Homo sapiens: one gene and its partners. The protein of the gene in region 1 purifies or fractionates together with the protein of each later gene. This does not show direct contact. Each region holds a gene or a part of one and is shown on either strand. Other genes may lie near its edges. The genes, in order: SLC45A2, SQOR and TMEM63A.

What was found.
Region 2: the proteins of SLC45A2 (region 1) and SQOR purify together in Homo sapiens (affinity purification with mass spectrometry; 2 studies listed by BioGRID and IntAct, with this or other methods). This does not show direct contact.
Region 3: the proteins of SLC45A2 (region 1) and TMEM63A purify together in Homo sapiens (affinity purification with mass spectrometry, with the first as the bait; one large-scale study listed by BioGRID). This does not show direct contact.

The regions. Positions count from the first base shown.
Region 1 is NC_000005.10:33,944,017-33,946,743, reverse strand, and holds the end of SLC45A2 (membrane-associated transporter protein), read left to right. Parts: exon of another isoform or gene 1-878; intron 879-1,871; coding exon 1,872-2,096; 3' UTR 2,097-2,121; downstream 2,122-2,727. UniProt on the Homo sapiens protein: Proton-associated glucose and sucrose transporter. May be able to transport also fructose. Expressed at a late melanosome maturation stage where functions as proton/glucose exporter which increase lumenal pH by decreasing glycolysis.
Region 2 is NC_000015.10:45,637,923-45,641,578, reverse strand, and holds part of SQOR (sulfide:quinone oxidoreductase, mitochondrial), read right to left. Parts: intron 1-3,656. UniProt on the Homo sapiens protein: Catalyzes the oxidation of hydrogen sulfide with the help of a quinone, such as ubiquinone-10, giving rise to thiosulfate and ultimately to sulfane (molecular sulfur) atoms.
Region 3 is NC_000001.11:225,848,134-225,851,461, reverse strand, and holds part of TMEM63A (mechanosensitive cation channel TMEM63A), read left to right. Parts: intron 1-1,382; coding exon 1,383-1,550; intron 1,551-2,449; coding exon 2,450-2,565; intron 2,566-2,907; coding exon 2,908-2,970; intron 2,971-3,328. UniProt on the Homo sapiens protein: Mechanosensitive cation channel with low conductance and high activation threshold. In contrast to TMEM63B, does not show phospholipid scramblase activity. Acts as a regulator of lysosomal morphology by mediating lysosomal mechanosensitivity.

The DNA of each region.
Region 1 (2,727 bases):
TTCAGAGGTACATAGTGGAATTTCTTGGCATTATTTGCTGAGGGTAGGAAAGTCCTAGGCAATGGAGTCCAGATTTTAGTAAGTCAGACCCCATGTGTGAGAAGGAAAGCTGGAATCATGGGTGGTAATCCCCACTTTGCTGCCCTGAGCGGGACCTGTGCCATTTAAACCTTGGAACGCAACTAGTGAACAAGCGCCTATGCAGTGCTTATAACAGAGTTGGTGTTTCCACTCTAAAATTACCACCTCTTCTTATCAAAATTTGCAACTTTCTTCCTGTGAAAATAGGCTTATAGTTCCTTAACTGGAGCAATGATATAAAAGCTACAGAGATAACTCCAAGTTTAATCCAGCTCAGCATGAAACTGCAAAAACACTGAACATATAACCATCAGACTATAATTCTGGCCATGTTTTTCATCATTTGATCTGGCAGCAGGGCAGAGGTGCACCAGGAGTAAAAACCTTTCAAAAAAGAGGTGTGGCTTTCCTCATCCCCTGGCAAACATTGTCACCAAGGTGGGATGTTGCTGCTAATGGGAGAGTCATCATAAAAAACTGTCCCTACAAGGAGAGTGTTACATGGTGTTGGGGGAAGAAAACCTACGCTTCAGGCTCAGAGAAACCTGGATTCAAATCCTGCCTCTCTCACTTGGAAGCTGTGTTACACTGGGGATGTTATTTACTTGTTTATTAGTTAGCACTTAGAATGAGTTCATTTTTAGGTGAGATAATATATTCACAATGATACACAAAAGTGCACACTGTGTGCTCCCTTTACCATTTACTATCTCCCTCCAGCCCCAACGTGTTACCACTCTTACTAGTTTTTTGTTAATCTTTCCGGCATTTTTAAATAAAAACCAAGCAAATGTAAATCTGTTTTCTTATTTTCCTTTCTTATTCAAAGGATAATATGCGTTTTTCAGCATAATGCTTTTTTTTTGCCTAATAGTGTAGGAAATCATCATTTAAGCTCGCAGGCCCTCAGTTTCCTCATGAGGCAAATGGAAAGAATGTTATTTACCTTATAGAAAAGCAAACAAATTAGTGGATGTGCTTAGCATAGTGCCCCCTAGCACCCGACAAAGACTCAAAATGTGATAGCTAGTATTATAATTGTTACCATGGGGGTAATGATAATAACATGTGCATCCAGGGAGGTGGTGAGGTTGAAATACAGTAACAGGTAAAAAAAAAACCCAGGCCCAGCACATAAGCGATACCCAACAAATGACAAAGTTATCAGCCAGTTCGGAAGAAATATCAAGTATTAACCAAACATTATTATATTAATCAAGTAGCAACCATATTTTGAAAGATTGAAATGCTTTTTAAAGTTGCTTCTCTTAAGGACATCAGCAATTCAACATCCTTCTTAAAATCTTTGAATTTTTAACACTAAGAAAGGAAAAGAATGGGATATTTATTAAGTATCCACTACATTGTATTGATTATGGCCCGCCACTTGTTTTTGTACAGTCTGCGAGCTAAGAATTCCTTTTAATTGTTTAAATGATTGAAAAAAACTTTCAAAAGAAGGTTAATATCTTGTGACAGGTGAAAATTACATGAAATCAAATGCTAATACCCATCAATATTCAGTTCAGTTCCACATCACCAATTCATGAAAATTACATGAAATCAAATGCTAATAATGTCCATCAATATATATTGGAAAGCCAACTCAGCTCCACATTGCCCCTGCTTTTGCACTACAGCAGCAGAGTTGAGTAGTTATGACCAGGGCTGTATAATCCACGAAGCCAAAGGTATTTACTATCTGGCTGGTCACAGAAAAATTTTGCTGACCTGTGCCCTAAATGACAGTTCCTTGTAGGTCAAATGGTGGTTCTGTGCTTCCTTTGCAGAGGCAGCAGGCCCCAGGAGGGGACCCAGACAACAGCGTGAGAGGGAAGGGCATGGACTGCGCCACCCTCACATGCATGGTGCAGCTGGCTCAGATCCTGGTCGGAGGTGGCCTGGGCTTTCTGGTCAACACAGCCGGGACCGTTGTCGTCGTGGTGATCACAGCGTCTGCGGTGGCACTGATAGGCTGTTGCTTTGTCGCTCTCTTTGTTAGATATGTGGATTAGGTCAATAAAGAGACAATGACCCTAACCTCAGAGACAGTGAAGCACATGGCAGGAAGTTAACATTTTCTGCAGCTCTGAATCTTAGGGTCTGCCCATTGGACGCCCACTATTGTGATTTCAGCCGTGGAATCTGCCCACCTCTCTCTCTCTCTCTCTCTTTTTTTTTTTTTTTTTGAGATGGAGTCTTGCTCTGTCACCTAGGCTGGAGTGCAGTGGCACGATCCCGGCTCACTGCAAGCTTCGCCTCCTGGGTTCACACCATTCTCCTGCCTCAGCCTCTCGAGTAGCTGGGACTACAGGCGCCCACCACCATGCATGGCTAATTTTCTGTATTTTTAGTAGAGATGGGGTTTCGCCATGTTAGCCAGGATGGTCTCGACCTTCTGATCTCATGATCCGCCCCCCTTGGCCTCCCAAAGTCCTGGGATTACAGGCGCAAGTCACCGCGCCCAGTCCCACCTCTCACTTTAAACCAATCCTCTGCACAACAGTCCCCATATTTCAGGCAACGTTTGCCTGGACTATGCCTCTATGCCTCGGTGGCAAGGGGTAAGTGTGGGTGGCAGCATCTCGGTGCAAGGGTGGAAGAGGCAGGAGCTGCTTTTCACAGGGCATTACAAATCTTGCTGAG
Region 2 (3,656 bases), on another chromosome or scaffold:
AATCTTCACTTAGCCCTGCAGGGCCATGTTGAAACTCTCCCTCTGGAGCTGTTATAAATCCAAACATTTGTTTAAATATTAAGCTGTGAAGCAAGTACACCAGTAGTGGGCCAGGACTGAGTCACTGGGGAAATAGGAACAATCTATATAGCTCTCTGATGATTCAAGGACTGGGAGCTGCACTGGGGTTCTTTAGTTCCCTCACTCTTCAGGGGCAAAACTGTAGGAATTTTCTTTGCAGAGTTACTGATTAAGAGTTGCTAATGAGGACTTTACAATGAAACAGTGGCTCCCTTTGCTCCTGAGAAATTTCCTACAAATTATCCTGACCTATCCTTATTTTACAATCAGAGAATGCATTGTAACAAGAGAACTGACAATTTCACCAAACCAATACAATTGCTAAGCAGAAAACACAAATTATATTTACATAAGGAAAATGCTTGCATTCAGATTCCAGGAAAGAAAAAATATGTCAGTCAATTGGATTATTTCAAATGAAAGTTAAGAGTTTTGACTGAATTATATAGGGGGAAAAAAAATGAAAGAACACCTTGTTTTTCTGCTTGCTGTAGCCAGTGGGAGCCTGACTTCTCACATTCTAGTACATAAAGAAGCACGACTTAGCTCCCCTTCAACCCCACCACTCATAGTTGGCCTCTGGTCAGGTAATTTTCAGGTTTCCTTTCTAGTCTGTATATGCCTGTGTGTGCCCATCTGCAGACTGTAGGACATGACTCACTGGAAAAAGAAGCCTGAGGTGGAATCAGTGTACTCCCAGTCACACAACAGGGATGAACTTGTTTTCCTGAGTTTGTTAAATGACCACATTAAAATTACTCATCAGCCTCAGGAGCATTGGGATTTCCACTCAGAGTCTCACATGCAAGGAGTTCACTGTAAACGGGACTGGCCATTTCATTCAAGTATATCATTCCTTGGAATCCAGTGTGTGAGGTCTTACCATAATGAGAAAACACTCTTTAATTTCAAGGTATACATTTGCTATTTGGACATAGTTGGAGAGACTCTAAACTCAATCCTTTAATAGTTGAGACAGAATGAGGTGTAGACAGCTCACGTCTCTTCTGTGTCCAGCTAGATGACAATGACCCGTTCCTGGTGAAGCTTTGTCTGAGGGCATATCAAGAGTCAAGAGACCCAGGACCACAGTCCAGGGAGTGCTAGGTACAGCTCTTCCTGACCCATTTTGGGCCATGCTTTCTTCATCAATGGAATAAAGGATCAGATTGGGTGGCATCAAAGGTCCCCTGCTTCTCTAAAACTTTGCTATCCTCTAAATGAGAAAAGGAAAATGGAAGTTCACAAGCAGGCTTTCAAATGGGGACGCTTGTTCTAATAACTCCTTAGATTGATCAGAGATGTGAATTTTTGTGGCAAAGAATAACAAGGCTTTAATAAGCAGGTCTGGAACATAATTAGAATGGAAACCATTCCTCTCAATCTCTCCCCGCAAGTCCCCAAATCATTTGTGGAAGTGTTGATATGTGACAGGCATTGTGCTATGCACTTTACGTAATTACTCACAAAAACCAGAGAGGTGGGAATTATTATTCCCATTTTATAAGTGAGGAAATGGAGATTGTAAGACCATGAGATAGTCATTTACCATTTTGAGTCCATTTCCCTGAGTGTAAAATAAGTGGAGGTGTCTAGTTGCCATTAAAGACCTTTCTTACTCAATGATTCAAAACAAGCTTAGATTTGATCACCTAGACCTTGAAAGGCTCATGATTTTCCTCCAAACTCAGATGGCCCCTCATCCATCTCAAGCATCATTTATGTGCTCACAGAAACACAAAACCACATTTACTAGACCCAGCACTGTCTTGAAGAGCTCTCACAATCTATACTCCAAACATGGTGGTTGTTAAAACACATCATTTTCCTATGGAGACATCATGGGCTACCTTAGAACAAATAGCCAAAGATATAAGAAAGTTATCATAGAGTGAAATCACCACAATCCCCACTTCCAGAAGCAGCCCTCCCTCCCAGAAGTCAGGAATTGGTACCAGGATACAGACATAGCCATTTTCTCTCCATTCATGTAGCTAGGGCCAGAGCTGCTGGTTCCCAGCTAGGTGGCATGAAAGTTCCCTGAGGGCTGGGCTAGGGCCAAAACATGGAGATTCATTATGATCAGAAGGGAGTCACCCCATGGTATTTAAGGATGATCATAACATCATCACCCATCACCCACCATACATTTACAAAGTACTTACTATGTACATGGCACAACAGCTAACCTAGGTCACTTGCTGAAGAGGCCAAGTTTTTCTTTTCCTAACAGTCAAAATCATGAAGCTGAATATGGCTTTAACAACTTCAGGCAAGATCCTAGGGACCACACAGGGTGTCTGTAGAAGGAAAGTACATGGGAGACTCTTCTGCATAGGTTGGGTAAGAGATCCTAAGAGCAAGTGATGGACATGTCGGGATCATGACTTAAAAGAGATGGTGCCTAGTTGTAGCCATTTTTTTTAAACCTATTGTCCATTTGGTAGAACCAGTTGTATTAATTTTCTAGGGCTGCCATAACAAAACACTATAGACTAGATGAAGTCTAGAGAACAGAAATTTATTTTCTCAAAGTTCTGGAGATTGAAAGTCCAAGACCTCAGTGCTGATGAGACTGGTTTCTCCTGGGATCTCTCTCCCTGGTTTGCAGATGGCCACCTTCTCAGTGTGCCTTTGCGTGGCCTTTTCTCTGTGCACATGTGCTCCTGACGAGTCATCTTCTTATAAGGATACTATTCATATTGGATTAGGGCTCCACCTTAATGACCTAACTTAATTTTCCTTTTTTTTTTTTCTTTCTTTCTTTTTTTGAGACAGAGTCTTGCTCTGTTGCGCAGGCTAGAATGCAGTGGCATGATAATCTTGGCTCAATGCAACTTCCTCCTCTCCGGTTCAAGCAAGTCTCATGCCTCAGCCCCCTGAGTAGTTGGAATTACAGGTGCACACTACCCCACCCAGCTAATATTTTGAATTTTTAGTAGAGACGGGGTTCCTCTATGTTGGCCAGGCTGGCCTCAAACTCCCAGCCTCAAGCGATCTGCTTACCTCGGCCTCCCAAAGTGCTGGGATTACAGGCGTGAGCCACCGTGCCTGGCTAATTATTCTTTTATTGAGACAAGGTCTTGCTATGTTGCTCAGGCTAGCCTCGAACTTCTGAGCTCAAGCAGTTCTCCCACCTCAGCCTCCCAAGTAGCTGGGGCTACAGGTGCTCACCACCACTTCTAACTAAGGCACTATCTCCTAATACAGTCACATTCTAAGATCCTGGGGGCTAGGGTTTCAATATATGAATTTGGTGAGTCCATAACACCAGTATTTGCCCTTCCCAAAGTTACAGACATAGATAGTCCCAGTGTGTTCTAAATTTCCGAGGGTTTTTTTGTTCTGTTTTGTTTTTTTCCACAAAGTTCTCTACCTCCTGTCCCAATTTAGCACTTTCTCAATGTAAATCACAGGGATGGTTGGCTAGATCTACTTTTCTTTATTATTATTACCACCTACATCTGGGGATTACAAAGATTTTTAAGGCTGGGATTAAGAAGCAACTAGTTGGCTTCCAGCCAGGTCTGGGCAGCTTTCCATAAGCTATCCAAACTGCTCCTATTTACCAAGTC
Region 3 (3,328 bases), on another chromosome or scaffold:
GGAGGCAGAGGTTGCAGTGAGCCAAGATTGCACCAGTGCACTCCAGCCTGACCAATGAGCGAGACTCCATCTCAAAAAAAATAAAAAATAAAAAAACAAAAGAACCTGGCATAATAGAAAAGGCAGCACCCACTTTCTGTTGGTCCCCTGTGTGCTCCTGTGCCACCCCTGGGGTAAGACCCTTGGGCCTCATTCTCTGTTGACTGTGATGAGGGCAGGGATCAGCCGGGTGGGAGAAGGCCAGGGGTGTGGGAGCACTGACATACAGGGGCTCAGCATGGGAAGGGCTGGGGAGGAATTGAGGCCAGGCATCCAACTGTGAAACAGCCTCTTTCCAAGATGATTCTGGAATGTTAGTGTTCTGTGGGGACAGGATCACAGACACTGTGACTCCCTTGGTGCAGGGTCTGTCCCACAGACCCTGACCCAGCGACGGATGAAAGACATACACTGCCGGGTGCGGTGGCTCTCGCCTGTAATCCCAGCACTTTGGGAGGCAAAGGTGGGCGGATCACGAGGTCAGGAGATCGAGACCATCCTGGTTAACATGGTGAAACCCTATCTCTACTAAAAATATAAAAAATTAGCCGGGCATGGTGTCAGGCGCCCGTAGTCCCAGCTACTTGAGAGGCTGAGGCAGAAGAATGGCATGAACCCAGGAGGCGGAGCTTGCAGTGAGCCGAGATCGCACCACTGCACTCCAGCCTGGGCAACAGAGACTCTGTCTCAAAAAAACAGACAGACAGACATACACTGACAGATATTTTGCCTGTCAGTGCGGCTAAGGGGCTCTGCAGCCTGAGTCTGCAGTGTAGTCCTCAATGCCAGGCGAAGTTCGCATTTATTTAGTACAGACTAAATGACAAAGGTCTCGAGTAAACACCACTAGAGGGTAATTAACATTGCCGACCCCCTGAATAGCGAGCAATCATGCACCAGTGGATGATCAAAGGTTGGTCTTAGGACCACATGAGTAAACAAGCTATTTAGGTAAACTCCCCCACATTCCTATGTATCTGCACCCTAAGCTTTTAAGAGAATTCAGCTGCCTTCAGCCAAACCCTTTACTGAAGCTATGCAAACCTCTCGGCTTTCCAAGAAGGTTTGTGTCTATTTCCTATAACTTTATCTTAAATTTTCTCCCACCACCCTGACCGATCCCCTACACCTTGGGGTCACAGATAAGTGAGGAAGTGGGTAGGAGAGAGAAAGTGAAAAAAAACTAGTAGCCAGAGGTGCAGGATGCCTCATTTTGTGTTCAGGCAGTAGAGCAGCAGCCCCAGCCCTGGCTCCTTGCCAAAATAGCCGCCCCGGAGAGGAAGAGGACAGAGGTGTCTGTGTGGCCCTGCGAGGTCTCCAGCTCACAGCCCCATCCCCTGCAGGCCTCATCTACATCCTGCTCAAGCACATGGTGGACCGGCACAACCTCTACTTCGTCTACCTCCCAGCCAAGCTGGAGAAGGGGATCCACTTTGCCGCTGTGAACCAGGCCTTGGCAGCCCCCATCCTGTGCCTCTTCTGGCTCTACTTCTTTTCCTTCCTGCGCCTGGGTGAGCAGCCCTTCTGACCTGGGGCCAGCCCTTGGCCTCCCAGCCCTGCATCCCCACCAGCCAGTCAGATCCCTCATTGCTTTCACAGCATCAGCATGGCATCCAGTCAGAATGTGGTGCCCAGAGTGAGGGCTGGTTAGGTGTCCCATCAGAACGTGGTACCCAGAATGAGGGTTGGTTACATGTCTAGTCAGAATGTGGTGCCCAGAGTGAGGACTGGTTAGGTGTCCAATCAAAACATGATACCCAGGGTGAGGGGCTGGTTGGGTGTGGTGTTGACAGCCTGGCTCCTAAGCTAGCCCGAGTGCAGGTGTAACCCTTGTGAAGGCCTGGTCAATTGTCCCATACATCCCTGGAGAGAAGATAGTGCCTTTATCAGCTGTGCAGGGACTGAACCAGAGGAAATGGGGAAGCTGATCCAGATTTGCCCTTTGAGGCTGGTGGTTGGGCCCAGCTCCTTGTACCTCCTGGCATGGAAGAGGTGGGGACGTGGAGGAGAGAAAACTGACACTCCTGGGGGAAAGACACGTCTGCCCCGGTCAGACTGGGGGTGTGGGAGGGTCCATCCTCTCTAGCCCAGGGCACTGGAGACTGGAGGGAACGGACCAGCAAGGAGGCTGAAGAATTGCCATTGACTTGGCACCCCAGTGCCTGAAATCTGACCAGGGATGATGCCAGTCATTCAGTGGGTCCCTCTGTGTGTTCCTGGCTGTGAAGACACCATCCTTGCTGCTGGAGTTGAGGGGTGGGGGTGGGGGGTTAGGCCTTACCTTTATTTTCTGCCTGAGGGAGAAGTCACGGGCAGTTTCCACACCAGGTGCGGCCCCTTCCTCAGCAGGGTGAGGGTAGGTGGTGGCCCCTCCCTGCCCACCCCAAGGCTAGCCACCCTCTATCACCAGGTATGAAGGCCCCCGCCACTCTGTTCACCTTCCTGGTGCTGCTGCTCACCATCCTGGTCTGCCTGGCTCACACCTGCTTTGGATGCTTCAAGCACCTCAGCCCTCTGAACTACAAAGTAAAGGCCCCCGACCCCACTGCCCGGTCAAGCCCTGGGAGGAACAGATGGTGGGACGGGCTCGCTGTCAACCCCGCCCACCCTTGTCTGTATCAACACAGCAGCAGCCTTCTCCAGATTCTGCTTCTCCATGGGAAAGGCGTGGGTGGTTGGGTGCCATGTGTAGCTTCCCTTCCTCCCCTCATCCCTGCACTCCCCCACCCCATCCTCTCTCGGGCTGCTGGGGAGCTTGGTGCCAGCTGGTACTATTATTCCGGGTGTTAATAGTCTGTGTGTTTGGAGGGTGTTTGTTCACAGAGATCAGTTTTGTTTATCATCGCAAGTTTTTGCTGTTATCTGCAGACAGAAGAGCCTGCAAGTGACAAAGGAAGTGAGGCAGAGGCCCACATGCCCCCACCGTTCACAGTAAGCTGTGCCCCTCAGCCTCTGAGCTTGTCGCCCTTTTTTTTGCTTTGGTTGTAACAGTCCCAACCAGATGGGCCCCGGCAAATCTTTGATCATCTCTTGCTAAGATCACATGGCAGGCAAGTTTGTGAATTAATGGCAGAGAAGGAATCCTGGTCCCCCTGGGTATTTTAACCTGCATATTTGAAACTGTTGAGGAGATAGAGTCTTGTCTCGATTCATGGCCATCCCCCTTGGTTTCAGTTCCCTGCTCTCTTTCCTTCTCTGCATATTTAATGCCTGGTGAGTTTGGGGCTTTAGTGAAGGCACATGGTAAGGCGCTAGGGTTTGACAAAGGTTTGTCATCAGCGATGCACCT